2 separate regions of the Homo sapiens genome follow, and region 2 is linked to region 1. A link means that fine-mapping ties the variant in region 1 to the expression of a gene that starts in the linked region. Tissue or cell type: whole blood. Region 1 holds a variant in brackets; the other region holds the start of a gene. All regions are shown on one strand. Distances are from middle to middle.

Region 1 (8,263 bases):
CATTTGCATATTAAAAGGCTAGGGTGGGAGGGCCACGTTTTTCTCGGGCTGCATGAATGACCTGCCTGGTCAAACCAATACCCTGGTCCCTGTGCAAATCAGACACCACCTCCTCCAGCCTCCCAATATAACCGAGTACTGTTCTGCCACACACGGGGCTTTTTCTCTGTTCGGAGCCCCCCTTTTTCTGTACCGCAGGGAGCCTTTCTTCTTTCTTGCCTATTAAACTTTCTGTTCCTTAAAACCACTCCTGTGTGTCCATATCGTTTAACTGACGTGACACAAAGGACCCCGATGTTTCTCCAGTCATCAGAGCCATATCACTTTGAGTCCAGAGGAATTATTGTTTTCATTTATCTGAATTTATAATATAGAGTCAAATTCCTAGTGGTTATCCTCTCTCATCCCCATTTTTATAGCCTTCCTTGAAAGGAACAGGTATATGAAGAGGAGACAGGTTTCCCTTTTGTGAATAGTATATCCCTTAGTATCTTGATTTTTTTTGGTGGGAGTCGGGGGAGTTAAACTTACTTAGACCTGGTAAAGGGCAGTATTTGATAAATGTCAGCTAGTTTAGGGTTAGGGAATTGAGTTGAATGGAGATAGTCACTGCCAAATGTAAAGCATGACTGGAGAGCCAGAGTGATGAAGCCAGGGTCCCTTTCTCCAGATCCTTTGTAACAGTGTTATGTGATCTCTTCTAGAAGATCGTGCTGAAAGATAATGCCAACTCAGAACCTAGGAAACCATCCAGTGGGTTTCTGCAGCTTAGGTGTTTCAAATCCTCATCAGCAGGTTCGTTTTCTCTGCCTCAGTTTGCTTACAATGATGTTCTCAGTAGCTGTAATTGCTGTCTGTCTTTGAATACTTAAGCATTTTATTTTAGCTCACAGGGGTATGTATGCATTTTTCTTTTACCAAGTGTTAGAACTTTGACTCTGCTTTTGTGGGCTCTGGGTTAGCAACTTGGTTGTTTAGTTGTAAAATGATTAGCAGGGAAAACCGTGTGTGTGTGTGTGTGTGTGTGTGTGTGTGTGTGTGTGTGTGTGTGTATTTTAAGTTTCTTTTGTTGTCAGAGCACTTCGAATTTTATGTGGAAATTCTGTCAGTTTACTTGATTCTCCACCCCACAGTTATTGAACAGGAAAGTGTGAAGGTAACGCGTCCCATAACCAGCCTTCAGAAGAATTACAGCTGCTGTATCTCTGAACTTTCAAGAAGTTTGTGCATCAATTTTCAAAAAATTATGAAATCCCTGAAGATAGCTGTGTTCTACATTTGGAAAGATACAAAAACTGAACCTTCTAGCAGGCCGTTTTGCTTGCTGGTGCTTGAGATAGAGCCACACACTGGTCTCAGTGGATTTGTGGAGAAAAGTAGGTACAGAAAGTTATTTCTAAATAAGACCAAAAAATCCTTTTCTTAAGCAGTGACAGGTAAAGAGGTTGTCTTGGCTAACCTTGAATTGTGTTGCCCTTGATAGAGACAGTTTTATGATGGGGATGGTAGTGATGATAAACTTGTTGGAAATTTGTCCACTTATGGTAACCTTTGTGGTAGCTGTCACAGACAACTTCATCCTCACAGGCCCTAAAATTACTATAAAACTAATAGAATGGAGGAGAAACAAAGGACCTGAATAATTAGATGCTTGGATAATTGTTCTGTGTTTTCATAACAAGTGAAAAAGAGCAGTGTTAGAAGTACTTAAACATTCCATGTAAGGAACACTGCCTGAATTTATATTGTGATTTTAGAGCATCATTCACTGTTTAAAAACAGGCATATTCTAGGTAATATTTTAAAGACAAATAGAAAACTTACCTTTTCAAGATGGATATAAAGCTTAACCTTATCAAAATTACAAAATGTAAAGCATACGATTGAAAAATATTAATGCATAGGTTTAAATATTGGTCATCATTTTAGATGTCTTTCAAAGTAGGTTGTCTCTTAAATATTAAACTGAACAAACATTGAACTTGTTGTAGAGTTTGTGCTCAAGGTTAAGTTTCCTGGGGTGATGGATATTTGATAATATGGATAACAAAAAGTTCTTATTTTAAGAAATTTAGAAAATTTTTAGGCAAAGCTAGAAAATAATACCAATAATTCTACCACTCAGAATGTACCACTATCAGAATTTTGTATCTTTCAGTCATCTGCTCATCTCTTTTCTCCTTTGCTTGTATGTGTTCCCTCTCCCTTAAAAAAATCAGATTTTTTATTATAATCTGCATTTTCACTCAACAATATTGTAGATCTGTGTCATAAGTTATTCCTCTACAGTGCCTTCAGTTATTGTGTGCTTTGTGTTGGATAACTATACCATCTAGTCTTTCATGTTTCCTGGTACTGACTACATAAGGGTGAGAGAGAGAGAGAGAGAGAGAGAGAGAGAGAGTGTGTGTGTGTGTGTGTGTGTGTATTTTTTTTCTACCTTAACTAATGCTTTGGACATCAACAGGTAGAGCTAAATCCTTGAAACCTTCCAAGTGGTGGCTTTCAGTTATTGCTGAATTGGTTTTTAGAGATGGAACAAATTATATTGTATGGAAACTTTTTTTTTTTTTTTTTGAGACAAAGTCTCACCTTGTCGCCCAGGCTGGAGAGCAATGGCATGATCTTGGCTCACTGCAATCTCTGCCTCCCAGGTTCAAGTGATTCTCTTGCCTCAGCCTCCCGAGTAGTTGGGATTACAGGTGCTTGCCACCATGCCCGGCTAATTTTTGTCTTTTTACTAGAGATGGGGTTTCATCATGTTGGCCAGGCTTGTCTCGAACTCCTGACCTCAGGTGATCCACTCACCTTGGCCTCCTAAACTACTGGGATTACAGGCATAAGCCACCATACCCAGCCTTTTTTTCTTCTAGGTACCAGCTTTTATTTATCAGATTGGTATAAATGTTAGAAAGCGTGCAATGAAATGGGCATTTTCACAGTCGTGGCAGAAAGTATAATTATCTTTGACTTTCTAGAAAGCAGTCTGGCATTCTAGAAACTTGCCTAACCTCTTCCCATTTAGGCAAGATGAATTCTCACTACCCGTAGGTGGCCAACCTTGTCCTTGTGATTCCGTATCTTCCAGAAAGAGAGGTCTAGTCTCAGGGAAAACCCAGATTTTCTTGGCTTAGCCCACCTGACAGCTAATCACTGGAAATGAGGTGGGCCGGTAGAGTCCTTTGGTCAGGTTTTGTGTCAAGAGAGGAATGTGGAAAGATGGGAGGGAGGTAGCAAAACTGGCCTCAATGGAACTATGTAAGTTAACATAGAATGACAAAGGAATGTTTCTTCCAGGGAAGAAATTCTAGGGAAGGAAGAAAGTGGAGGGGAAGGCAGCAGTTCTCAAAGTTTTGGGGTCAGGATTCCTTTACACTCTTAAAAGTATATTGAGGGCCCAAGGAGCTTTTCTGTATATAGGTTATATCTATTGGTATTTATCACTAAAAATTAAATCAGAAATACTTAAAATATTCCTTAAAAGCTCACCAAATTTTGTTATAAATGCTTTTATGAAAAGAAAATTTCTAAACCCAAAGTAGTACAATCTTACACCTTTTGCAAATTTCGTTGATGTTTGATATGTCATTTGCACCTGCATTCAATTTATTGTGTGATATTTGCTTGAAAAAATGTGAACAAAGAACAATCTCATACAGATAGGCATTTTAGATCCTTATGGATATTTTTTATTTTTTATTTTTTTTTATTTTTGAGATGGGGTCTTTCTCTGTCTCCCAGGCTGGAATGCAGTGCTATGATCACGGCTCACTGGAGCCTCATTCTCTGGGGACTCAGGTGCTCCTCCCACCTCAGCCTCCAGAGTAGCTGGGACTACAGGTGTGTACTACTCCACCTAGCTAATTTTTTGTATTTTTTGTAGATACAGGGTTTTGCCATAGGTATTCAAATAGAAAGTTTTGTTTTTGTTTTAGTATATAAAGAAATATAACTTTCCATGTTGAAAAAATTTTAAAAACCTTTTTTTAAATTATAAAACTCATAAGCAACCATTGTTGAGAAAATTAGTAAAGTACAGAAAAAAGAAAAAAATTAAAGTCTCCCATAATTTCTTTACCTAATATAACCACTATTGACAGTTGACATGATGGCCATTTTCTACCAGTATATGTTTTTTCTTTGCTGGTAAAATACATAACCCTTACATATATGTTTAAATAGTTGAGGTCGTATTCTCCATAGGTTTATATTCTTTTTTTTTTTTTTTTTTTGACGCGGAGTCTCACTTTGTCGCCCAGGCTGGAATGCAGTGGCGTGATCTCAGCTCACTGGAAGCTCCACCTCCTGGGTTCACACCATTCTCCTGCCTCAGCCTCCCCAGTAGCTGGGACTACAGGCGCCCGCCACCATTCCCGGCTAATTTTTTGTATTTTTTAGTAGAGATGGGGTTTCACCATGTTAGCCAGGATGGTCTGGATCTCCTGACCGCGTGATCTGCCCACCTTGGCCTCCCAAAGTGCTGGGATTACAGGCGTGAGCCACTGTGCCCAGCCCTTTTATATTCTTTTAAAAAGTATTTACTGTATTTTCCCATGATGTCATAGTCTTTATAGAAAAATAACAATCATTATTTTCAGTTGACATGATTGTTTACCTAAAAATATCCAAAGGAACCAACTGAAAAAAAACAATTTTTAAGATTACTGGTTAAAAGTTCTTTTATATAAAAATCAATAGCCTTCCCCAATGTTAGCTATAATCACATAGAACATATAGTGATGAAGTATTTTTTCAGGTATTTCAGCAAAAATTAAATACCTAGGAATAAACTTAGATGTGCAGGGCTTTTATCAAGGACATGACAAAATTTTGCTGAGAGGAATGAAAGATTTGCATTCTATGTTCCTGAATGAGCAGATTTCATGTTATAAATATGTTATCACCATGTCTTCATATTAATTTATAAATGTAATTTCTGCTGGGCACAGTGGCTCATACCTGTAATCTGAACAGTTTGGGAAGCTGAAGTGGGTAGATGACAATTAGCTGGGTGTCTGTGGCACACACTTGTTCCAACTACTTCTGAGGCCGAGGTGGGAGGATCACTTGAGCCTGGGAGGCAGAGGTTGCAGTGAGCCGAGATCTGCCTCTGAACTCCAGCCTAGGTGACAGAATAAGACCCTGTCT[C/CAA]AAAAAAAAAAAAAAAAACACACAGGAAAAAAAAGGGTGTATATATATACACATTTTATATTTCATATATATATTTATATATAAATTTTGTATATATATGTATATATACAAATTTCAGTAGAAATTCCAGCAGATTTATTTTTGGCATTTGACAAAATGACTCTAAAATTTGTTTAGAAGAGTAAATAATAAAAATTAATAAAGTATAGACTCTTTCAACCAGATATTAAATAAAATATTGTGGACTAGCCCTGGGCCAGACAGATAAAGGCAATGAAAGTTTAGAACCAGAGTCATGCAAATGAGAATTTAGTGTAAGGAAAAGGTGGTGCTTTAACTTAGTAGTGAAAAGACAGATTATTCTGTAAATAGTTTTAGGAGAACTGGCCATTTGAGGAAGTTTGAGTCTTAACTCCAATTTTTGTCAAAATAAGTTGTAGTTGGTTTAAACACATCTATTCTTAAAAATTAGAACAGAAGAACATCGATTTGAAGATATTTTAAGAGTTAAGGCTGAGGCTGGGCACAGTGGTTCACGCCTGTAATCCCAGCACTTTCAAGGCCAAGTTGGGAGGATTGCTTGAGCCCAGGAGTTTGAGATCAGCCTGGGCAACATAGCAAGACTCTCTCTCTCTAGATATAGATATACATATAAATATACATATAGAGATACAAAAAAAGAGTTAAGTTTTGTATGGAGAGCCATGAAGATAAGAGGTGAAAATTAAAGGCTTGATGGACACATGTTTACATCTCCAGCAAGGGGGTTGATGGGAAAGACTGATAGACATAGCTCCATTACTGCTACCTCCTTTTAGGAAGTTGCTTCTGAATATCTAAAGATAACAGTTTTATAATAGCAGAAATGAGGTTTTTTTCAGTGTCTAAAACATTACATGAAATACATACATACATAAACATGTTCAAAAGTTAAATGAAGTAGGATATAAAATTGGGCCTAGTGTTTAAAACAATAAATATATTTACATGAAGGAGAAAACAACTCACTTCCCACTCTTACAGCCTCTGCCAGTTTATCATAGCCTAGTTTCTTGAGAGAATAAGCTACATGTCTTCACCTTTTTTCACTGAACTCATTATAATCTGGATTCTGCCTTCATCTTTGCGCTAAAATTTATCTCCTCGTTTCCAAATCCAGTGGCTCCCCTCTTAGTCCACAAATTGACTCCTCTGCAGTATTTTGTTAATGTTGATTGTTCCTTTGTTGAAACATTCCTCCGTTCTTAATGTCCACCAGCAAAGAGTTGGTTAAATAAAAATTATAGTGTACAGTTTTATAATAGAATATTCTGTTATAGACCAAAAAAAATGCAGCCAGTCTTTCCATAAAAGCATGTGCAAACTTCTAAGATGTATTAAGTAAAAAAGTAAGGCATAAAATATTGTGTATAATCTGACCTCTTTAGTATACAGTGTAAAAAAATCTATGTCTGTGCTAGTTTATACTTACTTTTTTCTCCCCTGGTGGATACAGGAAATTGTGAGTAGTAGAACACAATTAAAAAAGACTGTGTGGCTTCTGTGCCAGGACCTGTGATAGTTGATAGTTGGGTATAAAAGACAAAAAAGGCATGTCCCTGTCCTCTGGGAAGGGACATGATAGTCGAATGGGACTTTTATCAGATTGTTTTCTCCTGTTTTGATCTTATCACCCTGCCTTGGTCTCCTCCGATCTCTTCTTCCTTGTCCTACTTCTTTCTTCTCTTCTCATTCTGTGCTTTCTCTGAGTAATCTTTGACTCCCATTACTTAAGTCATGACCTGTGTTCCAGGGACTCCTAAATTTGTATTCATCTCCGGAGTTTCAAACCCATATATCTGTCTGTATATCATATATGTTAGGGAATCTCACTTGGAGTGACATGGGTGTTCAAAATGATGGTATTTAAATTTTCATGTATTCACCTCCTAGCACTCTATCAGCCCCATCATGTGTCCCATCAGTAATTGTCCTTGTCATTGTGAGTGGGACAAAATGAAATAATCAAACTAGTCACCCATGCCTCAACCTGGGAACTGTCTTAGCGTTCTTTTATATGCTACTGTTCTCTGACCTCCCCCCCAAAGTACGTTTCTAAGACCTGTCCTTCTAAATGTCTCTTACTATTTTCCCTGTGATCTCAGTTTCTTCTTCCCATCCCTCAAATGCTTTTTGTGTGTGTGTGGTGGGGGAAGAGAGTAAAATTGAAATTCGTGGAAAATGTACTACCCTGTCTTTCTTCCTTTCTTTCTTTCTCTCTTTCTCTCTCTCTCTCTTTCTTTCTTTCAATGAAGTCTCGCTCTTGTCGCCCAGGCTGGAGTACAATGGCACAATCTCGGCTCACTGCAACCTCCATCTCCTGGGTTCAAGTGATTCTCCTGCCTCAACCTCCTGAGTAGCTGGGATTACAGGCACCTGCCACCATGCCCAGCTAATTTTTGTATTTTTAGTAGAGATGAGGTTTCATCATGTTCACCAGGCTGGTCTCGAACTCCTGGCCACTACCCTGTCTTTCTTGTTGCTTGGTATGACTCCACTACCCTGCTCCCTCTCTCCCCCTGCAGCGGGATAATTTAGGAATCAGAGAGACTGAAGGGTTGAGGAGGATATATATTATTATTATTTAGGTGCACCGGCCCAGTCAAATTTAACATCTAAAGGACTGAGCCCTGAACAAAGAGTCAGGTTACCTTTTAAACATTTTATCGGGTCGGGGGAGATCTGTGCAGGGGGAGGCATATTACAGAAGCAAGAAACAAAGACAGTTATTCAGTTGAGACATGCATTACATTATTTCTTACTTTTCAAGGAAAAACCTGTTTTTCGACTGAGTTTATCTGTCTAGTGACCTTGCAGCTGCACAGCTAGAGAATCAGGGTCTTCACAATGCCTGGGAGACGAGGAGAGATAAGGTTCACTAGCCTCAGAAAAACAGACAGTTAATTTTTAAAGGACTCCACCTCTTTTTCTTTCTTAGGGGGAATTGGGTTTTTTTTTTTTTTTATAACTGAGTTTTTGCTTACACATTCTTTTTATTATTATTATTATACTTTAAGTTCTAGGGTACATTTGCATAACGTTCAGGTTTGTTACATATGTATACATGTGCCATGTT
Region 2 (8,000 bases), 720 kb after region 1:
CCCAACCTCGAGGAGCTTCCATTATCATGGAGGAGAGATCCAGACCAGTAAACAAAGGCGTAAGCCAGATAATTTTAGATAGTAAAAGTACTCTGAATCAAATAAAGCAGGGCGCTTGATAGGCGAAAGTTCAGGAGGGTGGTCAGGTAAGGCCTTCTACAGCAGCTGAGTCAACTGAGGTCAGAGGCAGGAATCAGAGGGAGGAGACTAGGACATGTTTAGATGAGAGGCAGTATAGACCAAAACTAAGAGGAGGTGCGGATGGGGAGGAGCAAACAGACTTGAGTGATATTTGGAAAGTCACACTGGGAGAATTGTGTAACAAAAGGAATTCCGGAGAGGTGGGAACTGATGGCTCCCAGGCTTCTGGCTTGGGTGAGTGGGCGAATTGTGGTGCCACCAGATAAAATAAAGCAGGAGTGTGTCTTGAGGAAATGAGGAATTCTGTTTTGACATTGTGAGGTGCCACCGGGATGCCCAGGCAGCCATGCTAAGGGAATAACAGGTCAGGGCTTGTTATTTGGGATCTAGCATCATAGATGTGGCCATTAAAACCAAGTGTGTCTGAGAAAGAAACAAGAGAAGATGGTAGGCAAAAGAGGACACTCAGGGCCAGGTGTGGTGGTTCACACCTGTAATCCCAGCACTTTGGGAGATGGAGGCGGGTGGATCACCTGAGTTCAGGAGTTTGAGACCAGCCCGGCCAACATGATGAAACCCCATCTATACTAAAAATACAAAAATTAGCCGGGTATGGTGGCGGGCACCTGTAATCCTAGTTCCTTGGGAGGCTGAGGCAGAATTGCTTGAACCCGGCGGGGGGCAGGGCAGAGGTTGCAGTGAGCTGAGATTGTGCCACTTCACTCCAGCCTGAGTGAAAGAGCGAGACTTTGTCTCAAAAACAAACAAACAAACAAAAAACAAACAAACAAAAAAAACCCAGGACACTCAGGTTCAGGGAGCAGATTTCTAAATTGGAAGCTACTTGAGCCTGTGTCTAGGTTGAGCGGAAGGATCCAGGGCAGCCAGAGGGGTTCACTTATCCCAAAAGCCAGGGAAGGTTCCTGCGAAAAACTCTTCCCAACTACAAGCATTCTGACCACTCATATTTTCAGCATTAAGAGAGAAACTGGCCGGGCGCGGTGGCTCACGCCTGTAATCCCAGCACTTTGGGAGGCCGAGGCGGGCGGATCACGAGGTCAGGAGATCGAGACCATCCCGGCTAAAACGGTGAAACCCCGTCTCTACTAAAAATACAAAAAATTAGCCGGGCGTAGTGGCGGGCGCCTGTAGTCCCAGCTACTTGGGAGGCTGAGGCAGGAGAATGGCGTGAACCCGGGAGGCGGAGCTTGCAGTGAGCCGAGATCCCGCCACTGCACTCCAGCCTGGGTGACAGAGCGAGACTCCATCTCAAAAAAAAAAAAAAAAAAAAAAAAAAAAAAAAAAAAAAAAGAGAAACTGTTGTCAACAAAAAAATCATGTAATTCCCAATATGTATATCACAATACCTTGAAACTTTGCCATGTCACTTGGGTCCCTTGTGGGCTCTGAGGGAGCAGCTCTGAGACTGATGCAACAAGGTTGGGTGTTGATGGAAGGGATGGGCTGGCTTGGGAGCCTGGCTGGGAGCTCAGAGGTATAGGAGGAAGTGTCTCTTGTCAGGGAGGAAGTAGGAGTTTAAGGAGAGTGGTGAAGGTTAGGGGTGGAAGAGGGTGATGTGCAGGTGACAGGTGAGGACACCTCTTGGAGAAACTTTGGATATGTCACAGTGTGGGCCAAGGCTTAAACGTTATGCACTCAGAGCTGGAGAAGCCTTCAAGAAGAACTAGGATGAAGGATTAGGAGAACTGGCATTTGAAAAGTGGAGTGGCCCTGGAGCAGGCCATACCTCCTCGTAGCTCATTTTCCTCATGTCTAAAATGAGCCAAATGGTCTTTTAGAGGCTAGGTGCGGTGGCTCACACCTGTAATCCCAGCACTTTGGGAGGCCGAGGAGGGAGGATCACTTGAGCCCAGGAGTTTGAGACCAGCTTGGGCAACATAGTGAGACCCTGCCTCTACAAAGAAGTGGTGCGAGACTGTAGTCCCAGGAGCTAAGGAGGCTAAGCTGGGAGGATGGCTTGGCGTGGGAAAGTGGGGACTGCAGTGAGCCCTCATCTCTCCACTGCCTCTAGCCTGGTTTGCAGAGTGAGACCCTGTCTTAAAAAAATAAAAATAAAAATAGGCTGGGCGCGGTGGCTCACGCCTGTAATCCCAGCACTTTGGGAGGCCGAGGCGGGCGGATCACGAGGTCAGGAGATCAAGACCACGGTGAAACCCCGTCTCTACTAAAAATACAAAAAATTAGCCCGGCGCGGTGGCGGGCACCTGTAGTCCCAGCTACTCTGGAGGCTGAGGCAGAATGGCGTGAACCCCGGGAGGTGGAGCTTGCAGTGAGCCAAGATTGCACCACTGCACTCCAGCCTGGGTGACAGAGCGAGACTCTGTCTCAAAAAAAAAAAAAAATAAAAATAATAAATAAATAAATAAATAAATAAATAAAATAAACCCCTCAAATGGCAACAGCAAAAACACATAAATGGTCTCTTAAATTCCCTGGAAGTTGTAAAGACAGTAAGTACATGCCGGTACCTCCCTCAGTTGCTTGAGCTGTTCTCCTGGAACTCACTGCCCTTCAGATAGCCACAACACTTGACACACAATATTTTCCATACCCGTAGGCATCTATCATTCAGAGGAAGAGGCTTATCTTCCAGTCTTTGTACCCTGCAGGGCCCAATGCAGGCTGGCTGGTGGGCACCTGGCCTCCAGGAATGCTTCCTGGAATAGCAATGAATGGCGCTCTAGTCTCTTAGAGTCTCAGCATTTATGTCCATTTCAATTAAAGAAAAAAAAAAAAAAAGAATCGCAGGAGGTGGTGTAGTGAGCAGCACAGGATAACGCGCTTCGTAGGTATGAACTCAGTTAACCCCACAGTCACACTATGAAGTGTGTTATCCCCATTTCCCAGATAAGGGAAAAGACAGAGAGGTTAAGTAATTTGACCAAAGTCAACAGCTGGTGACTGGAGAGCCAGGTTTAAAAACCGGATGCCGGCTCCGTGCAGCAGCCCGCCGATGGCTACTGGAGCGGAGAGGTTCCGAGGTTTCAGGGGCATTTTGTCCTTTCCCACTTCTGGGCCGTGGGCTCCCCCATAGACGATCCCGCGGGCCCTTCCTCCTCTGACACCCTCGGATCTGGTTCCACCTTTCCCGGACCGCAGCTCAGCCCCGCGCCTCTCCAGCTCTTCGATGACCGGTTCCCGGCCGTGCCCCGGGCCCTCCCTCGGAGCGCGCGCCGCCAGGGGCACCTGTCCCTGCGCGGGGGTGTCGCCGCCCCTCGGCGCCGCCGGGCGCTTGCCGCTGAGCCGTGGCGCCCCTGGCAGGAGCACTGCAAGGACGCCTCCCGGGACTGCACCGCGGCCCTGCGCACTTGGGGCGACGGGGCCAGGCGCGGGGGACGGCTGCGGGCTGGGAGGGCGCGCGGAGGAGACACCGCTGAGGGGACGCCGCTGAGGGCGCCACGCGGGGGGCGCGGCTGAGGCGCCTCGAAGGGCAAGCGCCAAGGGGGCGCGGGCGCCGCCGGAAGCTGGGGCGGGGCGCCCAGCGGGATGCGGTGAAGGGCGAGCGGCGCGGCGGCTGCGATGAGTGCCTCTGCGGCCACCGGGGTCTTCGTGCTGTCCCTCTCGGCCATCCCGGTCACCTATGTCTTCAACCACCTGGCGGCCCAGCATGAGTGAGTGAGCCGGCGCGGCGGGGGTCGCGCCGAGGGGCGGCGGGAGTTGGCTCGCCGCGACGGGAGCCTCGCAACTTTTCCGAGGGGGCTGGGACCGTCCGCCGCGGGACAGAGGTTCGTGGCCGCAGGGGCTCCCCGCGCCTGGCCAGACTAGGGGGGCGCCCCAGGGGTCGCACGGGCCGGGTCTTGGAGCCGGGCCCTGAGGTGCCCAGGCTGGCGCATTTCGGGATGTTGGTGCCAGCACCGCGCCAGGTGCCCGGGGTCACAGGCGTCAATACGGCCATGCCCCTGCCCTGGAGGGGCCCAGGGGCCGGTGGGGAGCGGAACAAACACGGACACTACGAACCTGGCCGTGTCAGCTCGTTTGTGCCTTGTTCTTTTTGCATCTCACGGGAACGTTTCCATGTATGGACTTTCGCATACTTATCATTTCTTATTAATTTTAGAAACTGTTGTGAATGACTAGCAGAAATAGCCCGGAACCAACAGGCAGAGACGTGGGTTCTAGGCCTGGCTTTGGCACTGACGGTGTCTGGCCTGACGGTGTTTGGCACTGACGGTGTGGTCTGGCCTCGGTTTTCCGGTCAAGTGGACTTTGTGTGCGTCCTATTGTAAGGTTCCACCGAGACCTCTTTGTGAAGGGGCGTTGTGAATGGAGAAGTGCTTCCCAGTGCCTGCGCTGGGGTAGGATGGGGACAGGCAGCAGAGGCAGAACACTTCAATGTGAAGGAAATGGGTGGGGCTGATGGAGGGGGACAGGGCTTGGGTTCGAAGCCCTGCCTCCCACTCCACTGCAGGGATCACGGACTAACCTGCAGCCGGCAGCTGAAGGCCTGAGGGTCGCCGGGTGTTGGGACAGGCGCCAGCCTCTGTTCCTGCTGATGTTGGTTGCTGTCTGGAGGGAGGAGGAAGTAACCTGCTATGTCTCTCAGCTGTTGGTGCTAAGGAAATTGCATCAGTCTGTAGGCTGCAAACCCCCTTCAGCTGGTCAGGCCGTGGAGTGTCTGTACATAGGGTGGTAACTTCCTCCTCTCCAGCTGCCTGGCCGCCTGATACAGGCAGCACCCACACTGAGTGCTCACCAGGCACCAGCAGTGTCTACCCTTGGTCTGGCCCAGTCTCTGGAGGCATCCCCTGGAGGCAGCTGCTCTGGGCCACCGAATATTACATGCCTGTCAATATAGTGCATGGGGGACCCTGTGCTCCAAAAAATGGCATTACGGGTAGTTCAGTGAAGATATACTGAGTGCCTACTGTGTGTTTGGCACTGTTCCAAGTGTTGGTGACATAGCTATGAACAAGCCAGAAGAGGCTGTGGAGGCAGGTAATGAGATAGACATCAACAAACATTAATACATCGATAGTGACATGCTATGAAGATAATAAAATAGGGTGACTGGGGAGGGGGCTGGTGGCCAGGGAAGGCTTCTAGGAGGAGGTAACACTTGAGCTATGGGAAGATCTGGGAATGGAGCCTGTCGGGCAGGAAAATGGAGCAGTGCAGGGGAAGGAATTGGATGGGCGTAGTAGGTATTTTGGAAGGTGAACAGATGGGGCTTACTGAAGAGGGTTGCATGGCAGCAGAGGATTTGAGGATGAGCCCTAGGTTTTGGCCTCAGCCACTGGGAAGATGGTGATGGCATTTACTGAATACAGACTGAACTATGTATTGCTGTGCATGATGGAGCGCACTGGCAAGCACTACAGCATTTTGAATAATTAGTGTCAGCCATTCTTCCTGTCCTCTTGCAGGTTAAAACCCCCGTGGCCTTTGATTCCTCTCTTCTTTCTCCACTCCCTTCCTCCTACTGTCTGCTTCCCCATAAGTCCTGGGGCTCTAGTGTCTGTTCCCTCCTTTCAGTTCTCCCTGGCACTGGCCCTTTCTGACCTGGACTGTGGCAAAGGCTCCGGTGCAAGTCTCGCTGCCCAGCCCCGCTGCGTGTTTCTCGGCCTCGGCCCCCCAGTCCCAGCCCACGCACTAGTGCTCCTGCCGCACCAGCCTGCCTTTGCTCCTTGACCATTCCTCCTCCTCTCCAGCCTCTAGCCCGGACTCCTGCTGCTCCCTGACAGGGATGCTGCCTTCCTCCTATCGCAGACTGTTGAAGCCGCACCTGGACTTTATGGCCACTTCTACCTTCTGCAGACCCTCCCTCTCTCTCCTTTGAGCTCCCTCAGTCCCTTGTTTGCACCTTTCTCCCGAGAGTTACTTTCCTGTGGTAAGAACTTACCTGCCCCGGCTATAGCTCACCCCTCTGTACTGTCCTGCCCAGGCCAGCGCCGTGTGCATCGTAGGCACTCAGGTATGTTTGACTTTGTTGAATCGAGTTTCCTTCCCACCAAACCTTTTATGCAACTCTGAAAACCAGAAAAAGAAAATTAGATTGAGAGGTCAGGAAAGGATTGAGCGTGTTCTGTCTCCCTCTCTCACTGAGAGAGACACACTGCTCACACTCATCCTTGCATGTCCCCTCTCAGTAGGTGTCTGTTCATAGAAGGGCATCAGCAGCCCTTCCCACCCCCCAAGACTAGCAACTTTCTCATCCTGGGGTTAGTCGCAGCCCTTACCTGTCCCTGAGTCCCTGCAGGACCTGTTTCTTCCTGTGGTGAGCAGGTCCTGCACTTGGCTGTTGTAGGAGGGTCTCTGGGGACAGTGCCAAGAGTCAGAGACAATCTGCTGCCCTAGTTTCCCTTCATTCTTCCCTCCTCTCCTGGAGCTAAGAGCATGAGAGGACGCTGTGAACCAGTTCACACTGCTCTGTCCTGCTCCAGAAGAGCACCAACCACGCGATCCTGCTGGCAGTGAGTGCAGGCCCTTGGTAGGAGTGAAGACTGGAGTTGTCACCTGACCACCACCTGCCTCAGGCTGTTCACCATTAAAATGCCTGTCAGCTGACCCAGCACACCCACCTCTTCCCTCATGGGATTCTTCAGCCCAGCATCATACTCTTGACCCACACTGGCTTCCTCCTTCTTCAGCTCATCCCCACAGGAGGAGCCTGGAGCAACCACTGAAGTGCAATCACCAGAAACCTCCTATTTTTCAGTTTCTCACCTGGACATTGAAACAGCCACCCTCATTCTTTTTTAAAAAATGTAATTAATTGTTATTATTTTTTGAGACGGACTCTTGCTCTGTCATCCAAGCGGGACTGCAGTGGTGCAATCTTGGCTCACTGCAGCCTCCAACCCCCAGGTTCAAGCAATTCTACTGCCTCAGCCTCCCAAGTAGCGGGGATTACAGGCATCCGCCACCTCGCCTGGCTAATTTTTTGTATTTTTAGTAGAGACGGGGTTTCACCATGTTGGCCAGGCTGGTCTCCAACTCCTGACCTCGGGTGATCCACCCGCCTCGACCTCCCAAAGTGCTTGGATTACAGGTGTGAGCCACTGCGCCCGGCCTCATTCTTATCATAGAATTGATCCATCTATCATTTATCCATCCATCCTCCATACATTCACCCATACTCCATCCATCCACTCATCATCATCTATCCATCCATTTATCCATCATCCTCCATCATCCATCAATTCATCCATCATCCATCCATCCATTTATCCATCATCCTCCATCATCCATCAATTCATCCATCATCCATCCATCTATTCACCCATCATCCACCCATTCACCCATCATCCATCCATCCATTCATCCATCATCTATCCATTCATCCATCATCTATCCATCCTTTCATCCATCATCCATCCAACCATTCACCCATCATCCATCCATCTATCCATCCACTCATCGTCTATTTGTTCCCCCCTTCCCTCCCTCCTTCTATTCTTATCTTTCTCTCTCCTAGGGGACGGTGATAGTTATCCAAAGGTCCCGATGTTGGGCTGTGGTGGTGTGGAGGGGTCTCAGTTGAGGAGTGGTGCTTGTAGCTGCTCCAATCTGAAGAGGTCCTGGTGTAGCAGGCCATTGGAGTGGGCCAGGTAGTATTTTGTCTAGAATTGGAAGCCCTGTCAGTGCTGGAGGTGTGAGAGGGAGAGTATTGCTGTTGGACTGCAGGAGAACTCCTAGTGGGTAGAGCTCAGAGTCCATTGAGATAGGTTCCTCCATGTAGGCAGGGACTTCTCTTATTTATCCAGTCTCCTAGGGCCTGCAACAATGGCTACCACATAGGGGTGCAGAATACATTTTTTTGCTTGCTATGTTTTTGAATTAATTAATAAACAGATAGATGCAATGATGTGACTTTCCTAGGGTGACACAGTTAGCAACAG

What was found. PIP is the estimated chance that this variant, and not a neighbour inherited with it, causes the effect.
Region 2: TM6SF1 starts here. The variant in region 1 is fine-mapped to the expression of TM6SF1 in whole blood (INTERVAL, PIP above 0.99).

Annotation. Positions count from the first base shown.
Region 1 is chr15:82,381,504-82,389,766 of GRCh38, forward strand. It overlaps the pseudogene UBE2Q2P2. Among named protein-coding and RNA genes, the nearest start is that of GOLGA6L10, 36 kb to the left of the region's middle. The variant C/CAA (reference allele first, on the strand shown) is at 5,149.
Region 2 is chr15:83,104,000-83,111,999 of GRCh38, forward strand. It overlaps TM6SF1 (transmembrane 6 superfamily member 1), which reads left to right and starts at 3,646. Exons shown (of 10, transcript NM_023003.5): 1 at 3,646-3,773. The coding sequence starts at 3,682. RefSeq lists silencers at 3,274-3,553, 3,584-3,703.